Linked DNA regions of Homo sapiens. The protein of the gene in region 7 purifies or fractionates together with the protein of the main gene of each other region. This does not show direct contact. Each region holds a gene or a part of one and is shown on either strand. Other genes may lie near its edges.

The links.
Region 1: the proteins of FABP3 (region 7) and TTC4 purify together in Homo sapiens (co-immunoprecipitation; one large-scale study listed by IntAct). This does not show direct contact.
Region 2: the proteins of FABP3 (region 7) and MSRB2 fractionate together in Homo sapiens (co-fractionation; one large-scale study listed by BioGRID). This does not show direct contact.
Region 3: the proteins of FABP3 (region 7) and DSTN fractionate together in Homo sapiens (co-fractionation; one large-scale study listed by BioGRID). This does not show direct contact.
Region 4: the proteins of FABP3 (region 7) and CARS2 fractionate together in Homo sapiens (co-fractionation; one large-scale study listed by BioGRID). This does not show direct contact.
Region 5: the proteins of FABP3 (region 7) and HMGCL fractionate together in Homo sapiens (co-fractionation; one large-scale study listed by BioGRID). This does not show direct contact.
Region 6: the proteins of FABP3 (region 7) and PLXNA4 purify together in Homo sapiens (co-immunoprecipitation; one large-scale study listed by IntAct). This does not show direct contact.

What each region holds. Positions count from the first base shown.
Region 1 is NC_000001.11:54,725,861-54,729,360, reverse strand, and holds part of TTC4 (tetratricopeptide repeat protein 4), read right to left. Parts: intron 1,016-3,500; coding exon 929-1,015; intron 1-928.
Region 2 is NC_000010.11:23,098,579-23,102,078, forward strand, and holds part of MSRB2 (methionine-R-sulfoxide reductase B2, mitochondrial precursor), read left to right. Parts: intron 1-3,500. UniProt on the Homo sapiens protein: Methionine-sulfoxide reductase that specifically reduces methionine (R)-sulfoxide back to methionine.
Region 3 is NC_000020.11:17,576,575-17,580,074, forward strand, and holds part of DSTN (destrin), read left to right. Parts: intron 1-3,500. UniProt on the Homo sapiens protein: Actin-depolymerizing protein. Severs actin filaments (F-actin) and binds to actin monomers (G-actin). Acts in a pH-independent manner.
Region 4 is NC_000013.11:110,685,617-110,689,116, forward strand, and holds part of CARS2 (probable cysteine--tRNA ligase, mitochondrial), read right to left. Parts: intron 2,403-3,500; coding exon 2,331-2,402; intron 2,211-2,330; coding exon 2,105-2,210; intron 1-2,104. UniProt on the Homo sapiens protein: Mitochondrial cysteine-specific aminoacyl-tRNA synthetase that catalyzes the ATP-dependent ligation of cysteine to tRNA(Cys). In addition to its role as an aminoacyl-tRNA synthetase, has also cysteine persulfide synthase activity.
Region 5 is NC_000001.11:23,822,630-23,826,640, forward strand, and holds the start of HMGCL (hydroxymethylglutaryl-CoA lyase, mitochondrial isoform 1 precursor), read right to left. Parts: upstream 2,801-4,011; 5' UTR 2,787-2,800; coding exon 2,727-2,786; intron 1-2,726. UniProt on the Homo sapiens protein: Mitochondrial 3-hydroxy-3-methylglutaryl-CoA lyase that catalyzes a cation-dependent cleavage of (S)-3-hydroxy-3-methylglutaryl-CoA into acetyl-CoA and acetoacetate, a key step in ketogenesis. Terminal step in leucine catabolism.
Region 6 is NC_000007.14:132,177,971-132,181,470, forward strand, and holds part of PLXNA4 (plexin-A4 isoform 1 precursor), read right to left. Parts: coding exon 3,411-3,500; intron 2,763-3,410; coding exon 2,616-2,762; intron 1,952-2,615; coding exon 1,717-1,951; intron 1-1,716. UniProt on the Homo sapiens protein: Coreceptor for SEMA3A. Necessary for signaling by class 3 semaphorins and subsequent remodeling of the cytoskeleton. Plays a role in axon guidance in the developing nervous system. Class 3 semaphorins bind to a complex composed of a neuropilin and a plexin.
Region 7 is NC_000001.11:31,367,415-31,370,076, forward strand, and holds part of FABP3 (fatty acid-binding protein, heart), read right to left. Parts: intron 2,177-2,662; coding exon of another isoform or gene 2,144-2,176; coding exon 1,971-2,143; intron 81-1,970; coding exon 1-80. UniProt on the Homo sapiens protein: FABPs are thought to play a role in the intracellular transport of long-chain fatty acids and their acyl-CoA esters.

The DNA.
Region 1 (3,500 bases), about 23 Mb from region 7:
GCAGGTATTCAGTACAGTAGTGTCCCCTTATCCACGGTTTTGCTTTCCACAGATTCAGTTACCAGTGGTCAACCATGGTCTGAAAATATTAAATGAAAAATTCCAGAAATAAACAACCTGTAAGTTTTAAATTATGCACTGAGTAGCAGATGATGAAATCACGGGCTCTGCTCTTTGGCCAGCACATCCACGCTGTAGATGATACCCACCTGTGAGTTAGCACCCATCTCAATGATCAGATTGACTGTCATGGTATCACAGTCCCTGTATTAAGTAACACTCATTTTACTTAATAAGGACCCCAAAGCACAAGAGTACTGATGCTGGCAATTCGGATATGCCAAATAGAAGCTATAAACTACCTCCTTTAAGTAAAAAGGTGAAATTTCTCAACTTAATTAGAAGAAAAATTGTATGCTGAGGTTGCTAAGATCTATGGTAAGAGCAACCTTCTATCTGTGAAATTACAAAGAAGGAAAAAGAAATTCATGCTAGTTTTGCTGTTGCTGATGTACCTCAAACTGCAAAAATTATGGCCACAGTGTGTGATAAGTGCTTTAGCTAAGATAGAAAAGGCATTATATTTGTGGGTGGAAGACACAAACAGAAATGTGTTCTGACTGATGGCAATCAGGTTTGGAACTATTTGAGATTTCAAGCATCCACTGTGGATCCTGGAATACATCTGCTTCAGGTAAGTGGAGACAACTGTATATGTTACTGAGACCAACACATGCACATGAGAGAGCTGACTGAACTGGGGTGGCCTGACTCCAGAGCCTGGTCTCCTCTGTCACACTGCTTTACCAAAGTAGAAAGAAAATGAACAAATTCCTTCAGGTAAAGCATCCCAAGAAAGGTTCCCAACAAGCTTCACAGGATTAGTGGATTTAGCAGGACCATAAAAACCTAAGGTTTAAGAACTCACCTTGATGGCCTGGAGTAAAGCCTCATTCTGATTCCTCTCCTTCTTTTCTTTCAAGTTGGCTTTCCTCACATCCCTCTGTTCAATTCGCTAAAAATGAAATTTAGATGCATCAGCTCTAGAGACCTGGCTTCCTCTTCTATTGCACTAGCCTGCTCCTAAATTATTATCTCTGGCCTCTATCCAACCCAAGCTCCTGTGTTAAGGAATACCAGTGGCCAGATTCAGTTCAATAAACATTTACAAAGTACATGCCTAGATGTCAGACCCAGTGGCAGCAGCAGTTTAAATTTACTTCCTGTATGTACCCAAGGAACTCACAGTCTACTGAGGGGTTGAGGGGTACAGACAAGTAAAGAGCCAGTATAACAGGTGGATTATGTACTACTCTGGTCGTGTGATCCGAGTGCTACGAAACATAGCCTGGGTGACAGAAACCCTGTCTCTATAGATTTTTTTTAAAAAGTATAACCACCCTAGTGGGTATGCAATGGTATCTTACTATGGTTTTGATTTGCATTTCCTAATTATTAATGATGTTGAACATCTTTTCATGTGCTTTTTGGCCATTTGTGTGTCTTTGGAGAAGTGTCTATTCACATCCTTTCCTCATTTAAAAAACTGAGTTACCTGTCTTATTGAGATGATAAGAGTTGTTTATATGTTGTAGATAAAAGTCCCTTATGACTTACCAATATTGTCTTCCATTCTGTGGGCTTTTTCACTTTTTTTTTTTTTTTTTTTTTTGTAGAGATGAGGTCTCACTTTGTTGCCCAGGTTGGTCTCGAATTCCTGGCCTCAAGTGGTCCTCCTGCCCTGGCCTCCCAAAATGCTAGGATTACAGGTGTGAGCCACTGCATCTGGCCCCTTTTCACTTTTTTCTTCACATTTATCTTTTCATTTTTTTGATGGTATCCTTTGAAGCAAAAAGTTTTTACTTTTGATGAAGTGCAATCAATCTACTTTTCCTTTTGTTGCTTGTGCTTTGTGTCATATCCAAGTTCATGAAGATTCATATCTATGTTTTCTTTTAAGAGTTGTATAGTCTTAGCTCTTACATTTGGGTATTTGATCTACTTTGGGTAACTTTTTTATATAGTATGAGGTAAAGTTCTAGCTTCATTCTCCCACATGTGAATATCCAGTTGTCCCACTATCCTTTGTTGAAAAGATTACCTCCCTATTGAATGGTCTTGGCACACTTGTTGAAAATAAATTCCCCATAAATGTGAGGGCTTATTTCTGAGCTCTAAATTTTATTACATTGACCTATATGTCTATTGTTATGCCAGTACCACAATGCCTTGATTACTGTAGCTCTGTCGTATGTTTTGAAATTGGGAAGTGTGAGTCTTCCAATTTTGTTTTTTTTTTTTTTTTGTCTTTCATGATTGTTGGTCATTCAGAGTCCCTTGAATTTCTATGTGAATATTATGATCAGCCTGTCCATTTCTGCAGAGAAGCCAATTGGACTTTTGATACAGATTGCACTGAAATTAGCCAGATGTGGCATCACATGCCTATAGTCCCAGTTGCTTGGGAGACTGAGGCAGGAGGGCTGCTTGAGCCCAGGAGTTTGAGGTTGCAGCGAGCCATGATCATACCACTGCACTCCAGCCTGAATATTAGAGCAAGTTCATGTCTCAAAAAAGAAAATTACACTGAATTGATACACTAATTTTGGGAGTATTGCCATCTAACAATATTAAGATCTAATCTATGAACATGGGATGTCTTCCTATTTACTTAGGTCTTCTTTAATTTCTTTCAACAATGTTTTTTGTATTTTTAGAGTATAAGTTTTAGCTACTTTTGTTAAATGTACTCATAAGTGTTTTTTGATGCTATTTAAAATGGAATTGTTTTCTTAAGTTCATTTTCAGAGTGTTCATTAAAAATCTATAGAATACAAATGATTTTTGTGTACTGGTGATGTTGTTTCCAACAAGCTTGCTGAACTTAGTTCCAAGAGTTTTTTAGTGGATCCCTTAGGATTTTCTATATACACGGTCAAGTTGTCTGCATATAGATGGTTTTACTACTACTTCTCTTCCACTCTTTCATTTTTGAAGAATAGATTTGCTAGATATAGAATTCTTACAGTCTTTTTCTTTTAGCTCTTTGAATATGTCATTTACCTGCCTTTTGGCCTTCATGGCTTCTGATGAGAAAGCTGTTAATTTTCCTTAGGATTTTTTGTACATAAAGAGTCATTTTTCTCTTGCTGCTTTTAAGGTTCTCTTCTTTGTTTTTCAACAGTTTAATTATAATGTGTTTAGGTAGAGATCACTTTAAGTTTATCCCACTTATAGTTTGTTAAACTTTTTGGATGTATACATCAGTGTTTTTCACCAAATTTGGGAAGTTTATGGCCAATATTTCCCCAAGTATTCTTTTGCCCATTCTCTCTCTTCTCTCCTTCTAGGACCCCCACTATGCCTTTGTTGGTATGCTTGATGGCATCATACAAGTCTCTCTTCATCCTTATTCTTTTCTCATTCTGTTCTTCAGACTGGATAATCTCAACTGATACATCTTAAGTGTGATGATTCTCATTACTGCCTGCTCAAATGCG
Region 2 (3,500 bases), on a different chromosome or scaffold from region 7:
AAGGATGAGCACGTGGTGCAGAGGACAGAAAATACCTGCACACACACAGAAAAGGACACAGCCAGTGTTGAAACCTCTCTCTAGCCACGGTAGCCAGAAGACTTGACTCATTCCCAAGTGAGAGACCTTGTCGTGTATCTAATTTACACGTGCCTAAATTGCTGTTTGATAAAACTGCTCAGAATTTACTCATACTGTAATTTTTATTTAAACTTTGGTTGTTTTCTAAAGCCCCAGTGTGTTCATTTGCTAGGGATCCCATAACAAAATATCACAGGCTGGGCAGCTTAAACGATGGAATTCATTTTCATACGGTTCTGGAGGCTGGAAGTCCAAGGCCAAGACTTGTCCTGAGATTTGTCCTGAGACCTCTTTCCTTAACTTGGGGATAGCTGCCTTCTTGCTGTGTCCCCAGGCGGCCTTTTCTCTGCTGTCCCTTCCTCTTATGAGGACACCAGTCTTATTGGACCAGGGCCCCCTCTTAATGGCCTCATTTTGACATGATTGCCTCTTTAAAGGCCCTGTCTCTAAATGCAGTCACATTTTAAAGTACTGGGGATTAGGACTTCAACATATGAATTTGGAAGTTGGCGGGCAGGGAGTGTCACAATTCAGCTCATAACATCCAGGTCAAAGAAACCTCTTAAAGTGATACAGCCCACATATAACCTGACCTGGGTGTACCCAACTGAGCGTTCATCATTTTGCTATCAAAGCAAAGTCTGTCTGCCCTTGACTGAGCCTTCTAGGCTGGCAAATTCTGCAGCTAAATGTTGCATAATTGGTGCTTGAACAAGAACTAGTCTAAACATTATTGCCTACCCACTAAAGTTTTCGCACACATTAAAAATAGTGTAAAAGGTCCACATTGATAAGGATTAAAAGAACCATTAAAAATGTCCTTTCCATATTGTACTTAGATGAAGGCTTAATTCTTTTGGTTAGCAATTTAAATACTAGTTATATATTTTAAACTTAAAAAGAAAATATTATGGCGTGGCACTGTGTCACGCACCTGTAGTCTCAGCTACTTGGGAGGCTGAGGAAGGAAAATCGCTTGAGTCCAGGCATTCAAGGCTGTAGTGTACTTTGATCATGCGTATGAATAGCCATTGTGCTCCATTCTGGGCAACACAGTGAGACTCGGTCTCTTAAAAAAATTAGGGCAGAGGGAGAAGGTGGTGTCTGAAGAACAGATAGTCACTCTCTAATACGTGTAACAAAATATAGAGGTGTGGGAGAGGGAGCTGGGAACCCAGACCAACTCAAGCCTTAGGTTCAAAGCGAAAGAAGTACATGTTTTAAAGCTCAATTCATGAGAGTCCCACTGACTTTTAGCTCTTCTCTAATTCCCACTTTCCAGTGTCAGCTACTATAGTGTACTGCCTGTTGAGTCACACTAAGGACAGTGCTTCCAGGAGACAATAGGGTTTTTTTCTAAGCCCATTCCACTTCCTGCCTGAAAGGAGACAGGAAGATAAAGCCAGCTTCACAGACTGTAAATTCCAACCTTTGTACCTGAAGTTGGTCCTCTTACCTATCTACAGGAATAATGCAAGATCTTTGCCAAAGCTAAGAGGAGGGTGTTTTATCATGATGCGTTTAGTCCTTTCCTTGACAAATGTCAATGATAGCCAGAGATTAGGTCTCACAAATTCCCCCACGGGACCAGAGTTTAGATCTGGGAGGAGGAACCCAGGACATACACTCTTTCTAGCAAAGCCTGTTCTTGCTCTTTTTAGTGCCTCTGGCTAAAGCATTCTCTTTTTAAATCATTTGAGGTGGCCAAGAAGAGACAGGATCCTGAACAGAAGTGGCAAAAAAACAGACAGGAAGAGGCTTGTATTAGTTTGTTTTCACAGTGCTATAAAGAAATACCAGAGACTGGGTAATTTAGGAAGGAAAGAGGTTTAATTGGCTTACGGTTCCACAGGCTGTACAGGAAGCATGGCTGGGGAGGCCTCGGGAAACTTACAATCATGATGTAAGGTGAAGAGGAAGCAAGCACATAAGCAAGCACATCTTACATGGTCAGAGCAGGAGGAAGAGAGAGAGGGGGAGGTGAACTTTTAAACAACCAGATCTCTCGATAACTCACTATCACGAGAACAGCACCAAAGGGGAAATATGTCCCCATGATTTAATCACCTCCCACCAGGCCCCACCTCCAACACTGAGGATTACAATGTCACATGAGATTTGGGTAGGGACACAGAGCCAAACCATATCAGAGGCAGTCACTCGTTCCACTGTGACAAGATGGAAAAAGGGTAGATGTAGGTATTAGTAAGTGTGATGGTTTGGTAGCCAGAAGGTTTGTGGCTTTTGATTTTGCAAAAGTGAAATCTGTTGAGAGGAAGGGGAGACGTAGTAGATAGATACCATGGTTTGAGGAGAGTGGAAAAGGTTTTTTGTTTTGTTTTGTTTTGTTTTGTTTAATTTCAATAGCTTTTGGGCGAACAGGTGTTTTGTTACATGAATAAGTTCTTTCTTTAATGGTGATTTATCAGATTTTGGTGTACTCATCACCCGAGCAGTGTACATGGTACCCAATGTGTAGTCTTTTATTCCTCATCCCCCTCACACCCTTTCTTCTCTGAGTCCCCAAAGTCTATTGTATCATTCTTATGCCTTTGCATCCTCATAGCTCAGCTCCCACTTATGAATGAGAACATACGATGTTTGGTTTTTCATTCCTGACTTACTTCACTTAGAATAATAGTCTCCAATTCCATCCAAGTTGCTGTGAATGCCATTATTTTGTTCCTTTTTATGGCTGAGTAGTATTCCATAGTCTATATATATACCATCATTTCTTTATCCACTAGTTGATTGATGGGCATTTGTGTTGGCTCCATATTTTTGCAATTGCAAATTGTGCTACTATAAACGTGTGTGCAGGTATCTTTTTCATGTAATGACTTCTTTGCCTCTGGGTAGATACCCAGTAGTGGGATTGCTGGATTAAATGGTATTCTACTTTTAGTTCTTTAAAGAATCTCCACACTGTTTTCCATAGTGGTTGTACTAGTTTACATTCCTGAGAGTGGAAAAGGTTTAAAACACTCATTGCAGAGAAATGGGAAGAGAGCTGACTGGGGAAAGATGGTTCCATGGTTCACTGAAACCCCAGTGAGATGAGTAACTTTGAGTTTATAAGGACAACCCTCTCCCCAGGTGGGGGATTTTCTCCAGTAGTGCTTGATGGTACACGGGTAGCCATGGAGAAGATAGTTTTTTAAATAAGCTTTTTTATTTTGGAATAATTTTAGATTTATAGACAAGTTATAAAGACAGTACAGAGTTCTCAAGACCCCTCATCCGGATCCCCCTGGTAATCTTCTGACATCATCATAGTACATTTGTCAAAACTGTCTCTGTCTTTCATGACCTTTACAGTTTTGGGGAGGACTGGTCAGGTTCCTTGTAGAATGTCCCTCAGTCTGGGATTGTTTGATGTTTCTCCTCACAATTAAACTGGGATTATGGGCTATTAGGAA
Region 3 (3,500 bases), on a different chromosome or scaffold from region 7:
AAGTAATCTCTAATTGAAGGTGTGAAAAGACTGAGAACGTCTGTTGCAGCACGGCATAGATGAGTGCTTGAAAGATAGAAACTTAAGTTCATTCTACACCTGGAAGGTCATTTGTCATTGTGTTTGTGCTTTTGGATCACATCAAAGGAAGATTGTTTACTCCTTTGAACATTTTTACATTACTTCATAGGTTGTTATTTCTGTTTGCCTTCTCACAGGAAAGCAAGGATGAATTTCCTACCCTTGTTTCTATCTTGGCTTGCTTTCAGAAAATAGCTTGTAAATGTAATTAGTGTTTATTTTAAAATGGTTTCACAACTTTTCTGTTGCTATTTTCATGTACAGGTGGAGCATCCCTAATCTAAAAATCCAAAATTCTCTAAAATCCCAAACTTTTTGAACACCAACATATGGAAAATTCTACATCTCACCTCATGCGACAAGTCAAAATGCAGACAAAACTTTCACACATAGAATTATTTAAAATATCATATAAAATAATTTTCAGGCTATGGGTATAAAGTGTATATGAAACACAAATGAATTTTGTGTTTGGACTTGGGTCCTATTCCCAAGCTATCTCATTATGTATATGCAAATATTCCAAAATTTGAAAATATCTGAAATCAAATGCTTGGTACCGGAAGGTACTTAACCTGTAGTAATAGAACTAACACTAAAGCACAGCACAGGCAAATACAGGTAAGGCTTCTCCAACTTGCCCTGGAGCAATCTTTGAAGTCAGTTGTTGAAGCTCAGGAGTTTTGAGGAATTCTCAAATCATTGTAAGAATCTGCAGCCTGACCAACATGGAGAAACCCCATCTCTACTAAAAATACAAAATTAGCCAGGCATGGTGGCAGGTGCATGTAGTCCCAGCTACTTGAGAGGTTGAGGCGGGAGAATTGCTTGAACCTGGGAGGCGGAGGTTGTGGTGAACCGAGATCACGCCACTGCACTCCAGCCTGGGCAACAAAGCAAGACCCTGTCTCAAAAAAAAAAAATCTTTAGAGGAATACTCTAGTTATAAGAATATTTCATCTTTAGGCCAGTGTTGTCAAATGGAAAGAAAATACAAGCTATGTATATACTTTTAACTTTTCTAGTAATATTTTAATATACTTTTAACTTTTCTAGTAATATTTTTAAAAATTGAGAAATTTTACATATAAATTGTTTGAAATCCAGTATATATTTTACACTGAAAGCACGTGTCAATTCAGGTGCTAAATTTTCATTGGAAATACTTGATCTGTATTTAGATATGATAAAATTTACATTTGAAAAAGTAGATTCATATACTCAAGTTGCTCCAGACCTACTTACAAGTTTTCCAGTAATGGATAAGAATAAATTTTTAGAATTTAAGTTAATTAAAATTAAATGAAAATACAGTTCCTCAGTCACACTAGCCACATTTAAAGGACTCGTTAAGTCACATGTGGCTAGTGGCCACTTTATTGGACCAACCTAAGACTTTGTGAGTTGGCCTACTTAATTTGTAATGGGAAGTTGGTGTGTGTACCAACTAAATTCTCTGCATTTCTGCACATGTCCAAGAAACGATGCTGAGATAGCATATGAATTTCTTTATAGGACTTAAGATGTTTTATGAAACTAGACTATTGAGCTCTTTTAAGATGGGGATCGTACATTCCAGTAGCAAGATACCACTCTCATAGTAGGCCCACATAGATGTTACTGAATGAACATGAATGAGTGAATGGGAGAGGGTATTCTTAATTATGACAAAGGACAGGTTCCCATGGAGGTGGAGTCCTTTAATTTTTATACCTTCTATTCCCACATACCTTTTTTAATGTAATGGAAATTGGGTTTTAAGTATTGAATTAATTGAATAGTACCTCCCCTTTGTATACTGCATGATAATTTACTTTGAGTCTTACAAGTAAAAATCCTTCAAGATAGTTAAGGCAGTTATTAGAGTAATACCTTTAAAGTGATTGTGGCATATTGAAAGTCCTCAATAAATGCCAGTTTCCTTTCTTTCCTTAAAAATGAAACCGTGGAATTTCATGCTCATTGAGGCATCCTGAACCATAGAAAAGCGCTCAAAAGCCTAACAAATGAAAGAGCAAGAAGTGGCCGGGCGTGGTGGCTCACGCCTGTTATCCCAGCACTTCGGGAGGCCAAGGTGGGTGGGTCGCTTGAGGTCGGGAGTTCGAAACCAGCCTGACCAATGTGCTGAAACCCCCTCCTCTGCTAAAAATACAAAATTAGCCGGGTGTGGTGGCTCATGCCTGTAATCCCAGCTACTTGGGAGGCTGAGGCAGGAGAATCACTTGGACTTGGGAGGTGCAGGTGGCAGTGAGCCAAGATCCCACCATTGCACTCCAGCCTGGACAACAAGAGCGAAATTCCATCTCAAAAAAAAAAAAAAAAAAAAGCAAGAAGTAATGCTGTCTTACATTAACTTATAAGTATTTACCTTATCTCATTCAACCCTTATAGCAGTTCATTGAGATAGATATTATTTGTGTTAAACTGTACTGCCACATTAAAAGCATGTGCTCAGTGTCTGGCTGCTGGGTTTTTTTAAATCTTGACTCTGCCACTTGCACTAACTGTATGACCTTTGGTAAGTTCCTGACACATTCTGTGCCTCAATTTCACCATTCTTCCAAGTGGGAATAATAATAGTACCTACCACCACAACAGTATGAATGATGCATGTAACTAGTTTAAAGCAGTGGCACAGGCCAGGTGTGGAGGCTCATGCCTGTAATCCTAGCACATTGGGAGGCCAAAGCAGGCAGATCGCTTGAGCTTACGAGTTCGAGACCGGCCTGAGCAACATGACAAAACCCAGTCTCTACATAAAATACCAAAAAAAAAAGGAAAGCTAGGTGTGGCAGCGCATGCCTGTGGTCCCAGCTACTTGGGAGGCTGAGGTGAGAGGATTGCTTGAGCCCAGGAGCTTCAGGCTGCAGTGAACCAAGGTTGCACCACTGCACCTCAGCCTGGACGACAGAGCAAGACCCTGATCCCCCCAAAAAAAGCAGTGGCAGGTAGTAAAGTGCTTATCAGTTTATCAGTGTTAGCTAAAATAAATGGTGGCAAGCTTAGATCTAATTAGGTAAATAGTCTTTTGTTATTACTTGCTATCCAAGTGGAAGAAGCCAGAATCATTTATTTAACTCATTAAAAAGGGATTCCTGCCTGACTAATCAAAAGGCAGTTTATCCTTCAAGGGCCAGCTCTAGGAAGACCTGCCTGACATGACACCTCCCTTTTGTCATCATGTCTCATACAGAATCACTCATTTCCTGGGCTGTCAATGCATGGAGAGCTTGCTGCTGGTGCAGCATTAATCATATATAGGATTCTTTCTTATATCTGTTATCTCTACCCAACTGGATATATCTTTAGAATAGTTCAAAGTTTTGTTCATCTTTATATCCTGTATTCATCTTTATATTCTGATGACACCAGTGTGTGCCTCAGTAGTTGTAGAGCAAATGAAAAGAGTTGGAGGAGTG
Region 4 (3,500 bases), on a different chromosome or scaffold from region 7:
TGAATACATTAAACAGCAAACTATGGCAGTGCAGAACTGGCTGCCAAATGGTACAGCAGAGATATCAAGGCTGAGAAAGTAAGTTCACTTTCAACTGTGCTGGGTGAAGGAGAACTTCATGGAGAGATGAGGCTGTGGTCAGGGTTTGCAGCCAGGATGGGTGGGATTTAGTTCGGATTTATGGCGATGCTTCATCACCAAAGCAGCAAAACAGCAAGACGCCAGCCTTGCCTGGGGTCCACCAGACAAAGATTAGCATCCGCAAACCAATGAAACCACCTGCAGTAAGCAACATGCAAATCTAAACACAGACTGCTCCACAGGAAAACTGACCTGTCAGAGTCTTGAATCTACATGTGCTTACCCAGAAAAAATGAAAAAAAAAAAAAAAGAGAAAAAAAGAAAAAAAGAAAGAGGAGGGGAAAAAGTGAGGAGACTAAACCAACAAATGCACACGCAGCACATGCCCTGGGGACAAGTGAGTATATTTAATACAGAGAGGACACGCGAAGCTAGCCAGAAATTCTTCATTGTCTGAGGTCTGACCATGACATCTGGACTCCTTTTATGCAGAGATGCATGTTGAAGTGTCATGGCTGATGCGACAGAACATCTGCAACTCACGCTTTTTTTTTTTTTTTTTGAGACAAGGTCTCGCTCTGTCTCCCAGGCTGGTGTGCAGTGGGACAATCATGGTTCACTGCAGCCTCGAATTTCCTGGGCTCAATCTATCCTCTCACCTCGGCCTCCTGAGTAGCTGAGACTACAGGAGCACGCCACCATGCCTAGCTAATTTTTATATTTTATTTTTGTAGAGAAGGGGTCTCTCCATGTTGCCCAGGCTGGTCCTGAACTCCTGGACTCAAGTGATCCACCTGCCTCTGCCTCCCAAAGTGCTGGGATTATAGGTATCAGCCACCACGCCCAGCCCTGCAACTCACTTTTTTATTTTTATTTTTTGAGACAGTCTGGCAATGTCACCCAGGCTGGAGTACAATGGTGTGATCTCGGCTCACTGCAAACTATGCCTCCTGGGTGCAAGCAATTCTCATGCCTCAGCCTCCAGAATAGCTGGGACCACAGGCGCGCGATACCAGGCCTGGCTGATTTTTTGTCATCTTAGTAGAAAGAAGGTTTTAACATGTTACCCAGGCTGGTCTCAAATTCTTGGCCTCAAGTGATCCACCCGCTTCCACCTCCCAAAGTACTGGGATTACAGGCATCAGCCACCATGCCTGGCCCTGCAACTTTTTGTTTTTTGTGCAGGGGAGGGTGGGTGGACGGAGTCTTGCTCTGTCACCAGGCTGGAGTGCAATGGTGTGATCTCGGCTCACTGCAACCTCTGACTCCCGCAACTCACTCGTAATGGCCTGTGAAAAAACGATAGCCAAACAGACGGGGGTGACCTGGGCTGACTTTTAATAAGAAGAGAGCAGGTCTCTGGAGGTACTGTGTTTGTCCCCAACTTTTTGTTAGGAAAATACCTAAACAAAGATGAAATAACACCACAATGAACACCTGTACACCTACCACCTAGATTCCACGACTGTTACCAAGACTAGCTGTCCAGACGTTCCCCTCTCCCTGGAAAAGATATTTAGAACTAATTCAACCATTTCGCAAAGAGACACAATATTGTAGAAAACCCCACAACAGCTTTGCTGTTGGAATCCTAGCAAGACAGAAGTAAATTTTAGTATGTTCCTACAGCTGATAAATACATCCAGTTTCTCCAAATCCCAGTAATGTTTTAGTTTTAAGAACATAAACCGGCTGGGCACAGTGGCTCACGCCTGTAATCCCAGCACTTTGGGAGGCTGAGGCAGGTGGATCACAAGGTCAGGAGTTTGAGACCAGCTTGGCCAACATGGTGAAACCTTATCTCTACTAAAAATACCAAAACAAAAAAAATGTAGCCGGGCATGGTGGCACGCACCTTGTAGTCCCAGCTATTCAGGAGGCTGAGACGGGAGAATCGCTTGAACCAGGGAGGCAGAGGTTGCAGTGAGCTGAGATAGCACCACTGCACTCCAGCCTGGGTGACAGAGTAAAACTCTGTCTCAAAAAAAAAAAAAGAAAAAAAAAAAAAGAACATAAACCCTACCTTTTGCCGTTGAATAAGCGTTCCCACGAGCAATGATTCCTTCAATGAAAGAAATTATCTGAGGAATATTTTCGGTTACCCTCAGGTACACCGTGGGTGGGAGAACCTGCAAGGAAGTGGAGACGTGACCGTGTTTCCCTCGTGAGAAGCACAGGTCAGCCAGCACCAGCTGTCATTGCTCACGCCTGTCACCCTCATGGCAGGAACAACCAGCCCCACACTTTACCTTCAGGGCTGCCATGTCCTGCTTGAAGTCTTCCTCATAAAGACTGGCGAGGGAAGCGGGGGAAATATTCATCTGCAGAAGGATTAGATGTGCACGTTAATGAGTCTGGGGCATTCGCAACAGAACCACCCAGCCACAAGAAAGCCCACGTGCACAACACGACAGCAAACATACCCCGGCCACCTCCGGTGCCTCGGCCTCAGTTTGCCCCCACCCACTCACCAAAGCGGGGGCACTCATTTTAGGTACTGAACTTTTACTAGTAGCTTAGCTAGAAAAAAAGGCTTATTGACCTTGTCTTCTGGTTAGAGAAGAAATAATGTCACAATTTCCATTATATAGTAAAAAACAAACCAGCTGGGTGCAGCGGCTCACGCCTGTAATCCCAACACTTTGGGAGGCCAAGATGAGTGGATCGTTTGAGACCATGAGGTTGAAGCTGCGAACAGCCATGATCGTGCCACTGCAATCCCATCCTTGGCAACAGGACGAGACACCATCTCCGAAACAAAAATAAAAATAAAGTAAAATAGAAAACAAAACATACCAAGGATCCTCCACTTTTCTAAGACAAGGGCAAAATCACCCTAGTCCAGTCTGTATGATAAGAAACTAGGTTCCTATCTTATCCCTTAATCCTCAGGAGAAAAAAAAAATAGTCAAAAATATACTAAAGAGGAGGCTGGGTGTTGTGGGTCATAGCTATAAATCCCAGCACTTTGGGAGACTAAGGCAGGTGGATGACATGAGGCCGGGAGTTTGAGACCAGCCTGGCCAACACGGTGAAACCCCGTCTCTACTTAAAATACAAAAGTTAGCCAGGCATGGTGGTGCACACCTGTAATCCCAGAGACTCAGGTGGCTGAGGCAGGAGAATCACTTGAACTCAGGAGGCGGAGGTTGCAGTCAGCCAAGAAGGTGCCACTGCACTCCAGCCTGGGCGACAGAGCAAGACTCTCTTCCAAAACAAACAAAAAAGAAAGATCAAAAAGGAACTTCTAAAGAAATATTTTGAAAGTAATTTAACACACTACAACTGGGATTTAATGGAGTACTCATTCCCTCGGGTCCCATGGCTGGGTTTCTGGAGATAGACCATCAAAACAGTCCAATCAATTCCAAATGTGGGGGCCTTGGGGGCACGCATCTGCAGCCCCTGCCACATTATCC
Region 5 (4,011 bases), 7.5 Mb from region 7:
CTTTCTTAGAGACTAAGGCGATGAGCCATTGAATTTCATGACGTCAACAGGCTAAGTTGGAAGGTCCCTGCAACTTGAATCTCCCTCCAACAGGGATGTTCAGCCTCTGCTAGTATATCACCCTAAAACTATCTCACTGGAACATAAGTTTCATGAGACAGGGACTTTGTTTTATTCAATGCTGTATTTCTAAGGCCCTGGGACATAATAGGGGCTCGATAAATAACAGTTGAGTGTTGCTGAAATAATCTAAAACCTGCTTCAGGCCAAGCGTGGTGGCTCACGCCTGTAATCCCAGCACTTTGGGAGGCCGAGGTGGGCAGATCACCTGAGGTCAGAAGTTCGAGACCAGCCTAGCCAACATGGTGAAGCCCTATCTCTACTAAAAACACATAAATTAGCTAGGCATGGCAGCAGGTGCCTGCAATCCCAGCTACTCGGGAGGCTGAGGCAGGAGAATTGCTTGAACCCAGGAGGAGGAGGTTGCAGTGAGCTGAGATCGTGCCATTGTACTCCAGCCTGGGGTACAAGAGCGAGACTTCTTCATCTCAAAAAAAAAAAAAAAAAAAAAAGCTTCTAAAACCTGCTTCCAAGCTGCTTTTATTAGAACATTATAAACTCAATTCCACTTCCTTCCTTCCCCGTAACAGCTCTTCACATAATAATTCAGTTTTTAAACACTTAATATTTGCCAGGCACATACAAGAGCCATTTACATATTTATTTATTTATTTATTTATTTGAGATACAGTCTCATTCTGTCTCCAGGCTGGAGAGCAGTGGCGCGATCTTGGCTCACTGCAACCTTCACCTCCCAGGTTCAAGTGATTCTCCTGCCTCAGCCTCCCGAGTAGCTGGGACTACAGGTGCGCACCACCACACCTGGCTAATTTTTTGTATTTTAGTAGAGACAGGATTTCACCAGGTTGGCCAGGCTGGTCCCGAACTCCCGACCTCAAGTGATCCACCCACCTCAGCCTCCCAAAGTGCTAGGATTATAGGCATGAGCCACCACGCCTGGTGAGCCATTTACATATTAACCCATACTGTCCTCTCAACAATCTTATCAGGTAGGAACTATCATCATCCCCATTTTACTGTAAGAAATCTAAGGCCCCACTTGGGAGGCTGAGGCAGAAGAATCGCTTGAACCTGGGAGGCAGAGGTTGCAGTGAGCTGAGATTGAGCCACTGCACTCCAGTCTGGGTGACAGATGACAGAGCAAGACACCGTCTCAGGAAAAAAAAAAAGAAAGAAAAGAAAAGAAATCTGAGACCCAAAGAGATTAAGTAATCTTCCCGAGGTGACATGGGGAGTTACTCACTGAGGCAATATCTAAACCTGGCAGTGTGGCTCTAGAGCACAAGCTCCTAACCTCTGGGCCACTGTTGCCTCTTTACCACCGTTCGTTCGGTCCACAGTCTTCTCCTGGTTAAACATCCCGTTCCTCCTCTGTAAAGCTCTGCTCAGAGAGGGTCCCCCTAACCACACAAGTACTGTGCCACAGTGTCCTGAGGTATGGTGTACCTGCATCAACACCAACAGCGAATACTGACTAAACCCAGTGTTAAACTACAGGCCAGGGACTATTATTATCCCAACTCCGTAGGTGAAGAAACTAAGCCTCAGAAAGGTTACCCAAAAATCACAATTAGAAAGTGACAGAGCTTGGACTTGAACCCATATCTAGGCCTAATACTAATACTGGTTCCTATGCTTGGAACCCCATGGAGGGCCATCTCATTACACCAAATATTTCTTAAAAGCTTATTAATATCTACTATTGCGTTTAACTTTCCAAGTTGGAATTGCCATCTTCATTTTACACATGAGCAGGTGGTGCAGGTGAATGGCCAAGTAAAGATATTAACGTGGCTTTCTGAGAGGGACCCAGTGCCAGGAGTGTATTTTTCCCTCTATACAGTTATAACTCCTTCTCAACTCCCTAAGGTAAAAATACCACCACCGACTGATCACTTATTAGGAGCCAGAACACTGCCAGATGTGTTACTTACATTTTCTCTAATTTCCAAAACAACCCCAAGGGAATGTTGTCCGTTTTACAGACGAAAGAGCTGAGGTTTAGAGAAAGTAAATAACTATGTCATTAAGTCTAGAAAGTGGCAGAACTATTGGGACACCCTAGCTTCAGCTTTTATTTTTTCTGCTCCATACAGCTACGTCTCCCACACTTTTTCTGCGCTGAGAATGGGAGAGGGGAAAACATCAGGATCGAACAGGATCAAAGTGCAATTCCAAGGGAATCACAGCTTGGCTCCAATCAACGCAAGTCCCGCTCGGTAGGCTGGGATAGTTCCCCAAGCATCTCTAAAAGCAACAACAGTTGGAAATGGAGACGAAGGAAATGGAAGCGTGTTCTTGATTTTCACTAATGAAGAGTTGGAGAGGTCTGAAGTTCAATTAGAGGGAGAAAGGGGCCAGGGTCATCGGAAAGGGCCCTGGGCGGGGAATCAGGGCACCTAGGATGGCGTCCCAGGTCTCCATGACCCAGACAAGTCACTCCACCTCTCCGGACCTCAGTTTTCCCATCCCCTTCAAAGGATTTGAGGGGAAAAGGGAGGGTCCAGGACTCCAACGCCCTCCCGACTCTGGCCTGAGAGCTGTCCGGCCTCGCCTCTAAGAGAGCAGTCACCACGGGCCAAGCCCCCAACCCTGACAGTCAGAGTGCCTGCAGGGCCGCCGCCTCGGCGGCTCGGGGCACTTACAGCCCGGAGGGACGCCAAGCCCACCAGTCGCCGCGGAAGCGCCTTCCTCATTGCTGCCATCTTGGCCCAGAATCCCCCGCGGCAGTCCAGCTGGGCCCCGCGTGACCGATGGCTCGTCTGGTGGGCGCGGCCCCGCCCCCGCCCCTCCGCCGTGACTTCCGAAGCTGGCTCCACCCCCAGCCTCTCTCCGTTTTGATTCCGAGCGCCTCTTCCATGCCAGGCCAAGTGAGACGCTAGGAATATAAAGATGAACAGAATCAGCCTGGACACCATGTAATCCTAGCACTTTGGGAGACCGAGGCGGGTAGATCACCTGAGGTCAGGAATTCGAGACCAGCCTGGCTAACATGGCGAAACCCCCGTCTCTCCAAAAAATCCAAAAAAAAAAAAAAAAAAAAAAAAAAAAAAAAAAAGCCGGGCGTGGTGGTGGGCGCCTGTAATCCCAGCTACTTGGGAAGCTGAGGCAGGAGAATTGTTTGAACCCGGGAGGCGAGGTTGCAGCGAGCGGAGATCGTGCCACTGCACTCCAGCCTGGGCGACACAGTGAGAGCCTGTCCAAAACAAAAAACCCAAAACCAAACAAACAAAAACATGAAAAGAAATTAACCAAATTCTGTGGCTTCTTGTGTTTAGAGTGTGGGAGGTGTGAGGAGACACATATTAATAGTTACACAAACAGTTGTGTCATTTCTAACTTGCACTATAAGAAGCAACGATTTGCTACTCACTGTTCCGAGTTCTTAGCACGGATTAACTCACGCATCACGATCTTCAGGATTCAAACACAGGCAGGCAGCTCCAGAGAGGGGGCATCCTTAGATTTCATACCTTAAAAAAATGATTAAGATTTATCTAGGTGTACTTTCTGAAGGGCTGAAAAAAAAAAAAATCTATCCAGGTGAAGAGGATACAAGAAAAACTTTCCAGACGGTGTAGCATTCGCAATGGCCCTGAGGCAAAGAAAATGCTGAGAACACTGTTTTTCTCTCTTTTGTTTTGTTGGTTTGTTTTGTTTGTTTGAGATGGAGTCTCACTCTGTCACCCAGGTTGGAGTGCAGTGGCGCGATTTCGGCTCACTGCAACCTCCGCCTCCCGAGTTCAAGAGAGTCTCGTGCCTCAGTCTCCCGAGTAGCTGGGATTACAGGTGTGCACCACCACGCCTGGCTAATTTTAGTGTTTTTAGTAGAAACGAGGTTTCACCGTGTTGGCCAGGCTGGTCTCAAATTCCTGACCTCAGGTGATCCGCCCGCCTTGGCCTCCCAAAATGCTGGGATTACAGGCGAGA
Region 6 (3,500 bases), on a different chromosome or scaffold from region 7:
AAATCTACAGCAAAGAACCAGCTCAGATCCTCCCAGGATGAGTCACAAAATGATATCCTGGGGGTTACAAGAGTCTGACTCCTAAATTTCCTTCTTGGATTTAGTGCAGCTGATTTCACTTTATGGTGGTGTTTGTAATTTTTTTAATACAAGCTTTGAAACACCCTTCCTTCTAAATCACAGATCAGCCCTACAGCCTTACCTTCCTGCTAGAGGAAGAAAGCTGGAGATTGCTGAAATGCGTCATGTTAAGACACCCCCAGACCTCCCCTCGAGTAGAGTGCAAAACCCACTCAACCAGGATTCCAGGTATGGAGGCTGCTCTAGTGGGGTGAAGGTGCTCTAGTGGGGTGAAGGTGACAATCCTGGGTGGGAGCTCCCCTCGGCTGCCCCCTCCCAGTTGGGGTGCTCGGCCCACAGGGAGCAGAAGGAGGGAGTTGGCTTTTTATCAGTCTGCAGCTTTCCTTTAAGTCACCAAGCGCCTCCAACATTCAAAGCTGTGTGCCTGCCACACATAAAAGAGATTCTAATCACTACACCTTCAAGGAGAGGGCAAGGAGACCTTGGCCTCTCTGGTGTTGCCAGGGTGGGGCCTGCTTGGGTATGGGTGTGGTCTGGGACACAGGCATAGGGACTATAGAGTGAGAGGCTTTGCAGGTATGCAGGTAGGATGCACAGCCTCCAGCATTGCCCACAGCTGCCTGGCCTGCTTGCTTGTAAATGAAACACATACACATACACATACACACACACACACACACTTGTAAATGAAACACATACACACACACACACACACACACACACAGCCTCCAGCACTGCCCACAGCTGCCTGGGCTGCTTGCTTGTAAATGAAACACATACACATACACATATATACACACACACACACACACACACACACACAGCCTCCAGCACTGCCCACAGCTGCCTGGCCTGCTTGCTTGTAAATGAAACACATACGCATACACACACGTGCACACACACACAGCCTCCAGCACTGCCCACAGCTGCCTGGCCTGCTTGCTTGTAAATGAAACACATACACATATACAGGCGCGCGCGCACACACACACACACACACACACACGGCCTCCAGCACTGCTCACAGCTGCCTGGCCTGCTTGCTTGTAAATGACACACATACACATACACGTGCGTGCTCACACACGTGCGTGCTCACACACACACACACACAGCCTCCAGCACTGCTCACAGCTGCCTGGCCTGCTTGCTTGTAAATGAAACACATACACATACACACACACACGCGCACACAGCCTCCAGCACTGCTCACAGTTGCCTGGCCTGCTTGCTTGTAAATGGAACACATACACATACATACACACACATGCACACGCACACACAGAGCCTCCAGCACTGCCCACTGCTGCCCGGCCTGCTTGCTTGTACATGAAACATATACACATACACAGATGCGCACGCACACAGACACATATACAGCCTCCAGCACTGCTCACTGCTGCCCGGCCTGCTTGCTTGTATATGAAACATATATACATACAGATGTGCACACACACACATGCACACACACACATTCGCACAGACACACACACCGCCAGCCTCCAGCACTGCCCACTGCTGCCCAGCCTGCTTGTTTGTATATGAAACATATGCATACACATACACAGATGTGCATGCACACACATATGCACACACGCACACACACATGGCCTCCAGCATGGGGCCACTCAGTACCTTCCTTGCACTCCAGGGCCACACGGGACTCCAGGTTGTCCATCTGCATCTGCAGCCGCTTCAGCGTGAGGTCACTTTCGCGGGACTTGCGTTTATAGGCAATGAGCACGGCCACGATGAAAATGATGAGGAGGCCGCCAGCCACTGCGATGCTGACGATGGCGGGCAGGCTGAGCGGGCTGTCCGGGGCAATGTACACCATCCCCGGGGAGTACTCCATGCCACCGACACGGGCCTGGGGGCACACAGGGCAAGAGGGAGCTGGGTGTGGGGACGCAGCAGCTTTGGCAACAGTCCCAAGTTACCCATGAACTAGTGACCAGGGCAGGATGACGGAAAGGAGACCAATCACTGGTGTCAAAATAGACAAGAGGGCATGGGGGGCTGGGAGCGGGGACAGGCACAGCTTAACAGAGCTCACCCCCAACTGGAAAAACCTCACCTCCTCTTATTCAGGAGCGAGTTTTGTCATCTTCATAAGAAAACAGCACACAACTGGGACCTAAACACAGTCTGCCACAAATGACTGGCTCCCCTAAGATTTATGCCCAATCTAAGGGTGGACAACTGAAGCACAGAACATGATATTAAGATATTACGGAATTCCCTGGGCCAGCAACAGCCTTCTCCTTGAAGGCTTTGTTTGTTGCAGGTGATTTAGCAACTATTTAATGCTGTTTTGCATTTTCCTTATTGTTGCACCAGCCAGTGTGGAAAGAATGACAATACAGAAGAGAGAAGCTCAAAAGTGAACATGAAGAAAGAACTTGGGGTGTGGGGTAGCTACAGGAAAAGTTCTTTGTGGGACAGAATCCCCTCTTGGAAAGCCTTGGTGGCCTGAGCTCACATCTGCATCCCTACTGCCCGCTCCATCCAGGATGGGGTTCTGCCAGCCTCACCATCACTTTGTGCCTGCCGATGAGGTTGGGGGACTCGCAGAGCAGCTGGACATCTGACACGGTCACGGTGCACGGCTTCTCCCCAACCAGCACAGTGTAGTTCAGCTTCACGTTGCCCCCAGCCACAGGCGGGATCAGGTTCTTGCCCTGTACAAATGGGAAAGCACCAGTTCCCACCCCAGAGTGAGGACCACAGCTACCAGCTGGCTCTCATGTCCTCCCACCTGGAGGTCCCATCCCGCTGGTGAGCTGGTGAAGAAGCCACCTTTGGTAATAAGTGCAAAAAATATTCATGGCATGACTACCACCATTGCCTCTTCCTCCCAGTGGCTAATCAGTTATCAAAGTACTCCTTTCAGCTTATCCCAAATGCAGCCTCAGAATCCTTCTCAATGCAGAGTTGGAGTCAGTCACTACCAATTGATTCAAATTGTCATAAGCTTTAATTAACCTGTAACCCATGTTCCAAAGGAAGCCCTATGCTGTGGTTCGCACAAGGCTGCCTCAGAGGAAGCAGTGAGCCTGACCTGCCAGTACTTGGACTTTCAGGACAATAAAAGCTTGAGAGTCAAATAGCCAAGGTGGATCTGCCTTCCCTGGGTAGAACCGGCCCCTAAAGAGAGTTTTCTTCCCAGTACAGACTCAGAGAGAACATTTATCACACTCTGGGCTACACTGCAACCTCTGCAAGAGATGCTGGTTGAGAAATGTGGCAGGAGTCTGTGACTTGAACACCCCCTTCCATGCAGCAGCCCCTTCTTTTCCCACCCCCGCCTCCCACCACCCTCACTCCACCTTTAGGATGATGGGCGTGCCAGGCTTGAGCTCCAGGATTCCTGAGGGACCAAAGGCCTCAAACACCGGGTTGGGATAGTAGGTGAAGTT
Region 7 (2,662 bases):
AGCTCCCGCACAAGTGTGGTCTCTTGCCCGTCCCATTTCTGCAGGTGAACAAGTTTCCCTCCATCCAGTGTCACAATGGACTGTGGAAAGAGGGTAGAGGCCTGAGCTGTGATCTTAGTCAGGAATTGAGGGGCAGGGTGGGGTCTGGACACTGGGCCACAGAGCACACAGCCTTTGACCCAAACTAGTGATGGTGTGAGGACAAGAGCTCAGGCAATCCGCCTCCCAGCTATCCCTGCAAGACATCTAGTTCACCTCCAGCCTCTGCTCCACTACTGCCTTTCTGGGGAAGAGGCCTTCAGATATTAGGCAAGGAGGGAGAGGCAGGCAGTATGGTGGAGCCAGAGAGCCTGGCTCTGAGAAGTACCACAAGCCTTCAAGACAGACACTTATCTGTACTCTAGGTGATTCCCGTAGCCTGGTCCCCTCAGATACAGGTGGGATTTACTAGTCTATCCCTGGGAAAGACTGACTGAGGAGGAGGAGTAGTCCTGAGAATCTTTATCCAGCCTTGTGGTTAGTCCACATAATGTCTAAAAGACCCTTAGTGATAGGAAGTATTGGATAATTAGACTTCCTGCCCTGTATTCCTACACCTTTTCTTGGTCCACATCATGTGACCTCTTTAGCCAACAAGAGGGCAGCAACCACAAAGTCCTGTGACTGGATGCCCTTGAAGTGGTTCCTCAGCTCTGGGTGCTGCCAGCATACATACATCAGCTGGTTCTCATTTGGCAGCTCTTCCAGCTCTCTTTCCTAGGAGTTTGGGGGCCACAAGGCCAGGCTAAGGGATCCTGATGAGCAAGGTGGTTCAGTAGGAGAATCTGAGAAGGTTCTGTGTATTGTTTAGGTGATAAGGGGTATGAGGCCTGTCTCTTAGTGTGCTCTTTTTTATCCTTACCTTACTCCTTGTTCTCATTCCCCTAGTTTTTTTTGCCTACTCAGAGTAGATATTTTTGCCCTAGGCATTCCACAGGGCTATTGTGTTTAATTGGGGTTCTTGCCCCTTGAGAAAGTAGGCAAGTCCAAGGAGGTATGAGCAGGTGGTGGGGCAGCCACCTTTATCCAAGGTAGACTGCCATCTTTGGGCACCATCCCCAGCTCTGCTGCCAGCCACCTGTGTGATCCTGTTCTTTCTGGGGACAGCTATGAGGAAGAGGAAACAGCTGATGGGGCTGAATGATAGTGTCATGATAGAACACTGCTATAGGGACACCCTATAGAGGTCAAAGCCCTTAAGTTCTCTCGCTCCCATGCCTGGCCTGGAAGGCTGAGGCAAGCTGCCAAGACAGCCACTGCAGGGTGATAGAACCCTGGGAGGAGGGGCTAAGGCTTGGTGGGAAGACACTGCAAACACATTCATGACAAGGTGAATGCCCTATCACGGAACATAGCTCTTCCTGCCTGTCAGCTGGCAACACTGGAAATAGTTTGTCAGGGTCATTGGCCATGTCTGGGAGTTAGAAGTTGAAGCGGCATCTGAGTAGGTGCTTCTAGTTCCTGGCTGCCTTTTTTGCTGCTGGAGGTCACAATGACCTCACTCAGTGGAGGGCCCTGACTTCTGGGCATCATTCCTAAAGCACTTCAGGTCACAGCCATGGCCACATAACTCTGCCATCTATGGAAGGGGAAAGAAACCTAGAGCTACTGCATACCTTGCACAGGGTCACCCAGCTGGAGCTGGAGTAGATACTGAGGTCAGAAGAACATCCTGGCTCTGTGCTGCCCATTCCGAGGCAGACAATAGATGAATCCCAAGAAGGGAGGGAAGAAAACAAGAGGACAGAACTGACATGTATTTAGCATCAGTGGCATTCCAGCACTACACAGGCTTTATGAATCTTGTTTCATTTAAATTCCCCATGATAGTCTGCCCCTCAGGGTGCAATACCAGGGAGCCAAGACTACCAGCCTATTCTCTTTTAGAGTCTCAGCACTCTCCATTCCCCACCCCTGTTTCCCTGACTTACCTTGACCTTCCTGTCATCTGCTGTTGTCTCATCGAACTCCACCCCCAACTTAAAGCTGATCTCTGTGTTCTTGAAGGTGCTGTGTGTTTTTAGGGTGAGAATGTCCCCATTCTTTTCGATGATTGTGGTAGGCTTGGTCATGCTGGCCACCTGCCTGGTAGCAAAACCCACACCTGAGGGTAGGGGGAAGGTTATGAGTATATGAGCTGGGGTAGAGAAGCAGTGTACAAGAAACTCAATGAATAACTCTCAGGCCTGGGTATGGGGAAGTGGAGGACTGTATCTTTCAAAGCCTTTGCATGGGAATTTTAAAATTCAGTCTTGCGCTTAGTTCTGTTTGGTGAACACAGATAACTGATCCCATTAGATGAGAGATACTTAAGGAACAGCAGTGCCATAGCAAGTCAGTGGCAGAGCTGGGATTAGAATAAGCTACTATTGGGCCAAGTGTGGTGGCTCACGCCTGTAATCACACTTTGGGAGGCCAAGGCAGGCGGATCACATGAGGCCAGGAGTTTAAGACCAGCCTGGCCAATATGGTGAAACCCGTCTCTACTAAAAATACAAAAAATTAGCCAGATGTGGTGGTATGTGCCTGTAATCCCAGCTACTCAGGAGGCTGAGGCTGAGAATTGCTTGAACCTAGGAGGTGGAGGTTGCAGTGAGTCGAGATTGTGCCACTGCACTCCAGC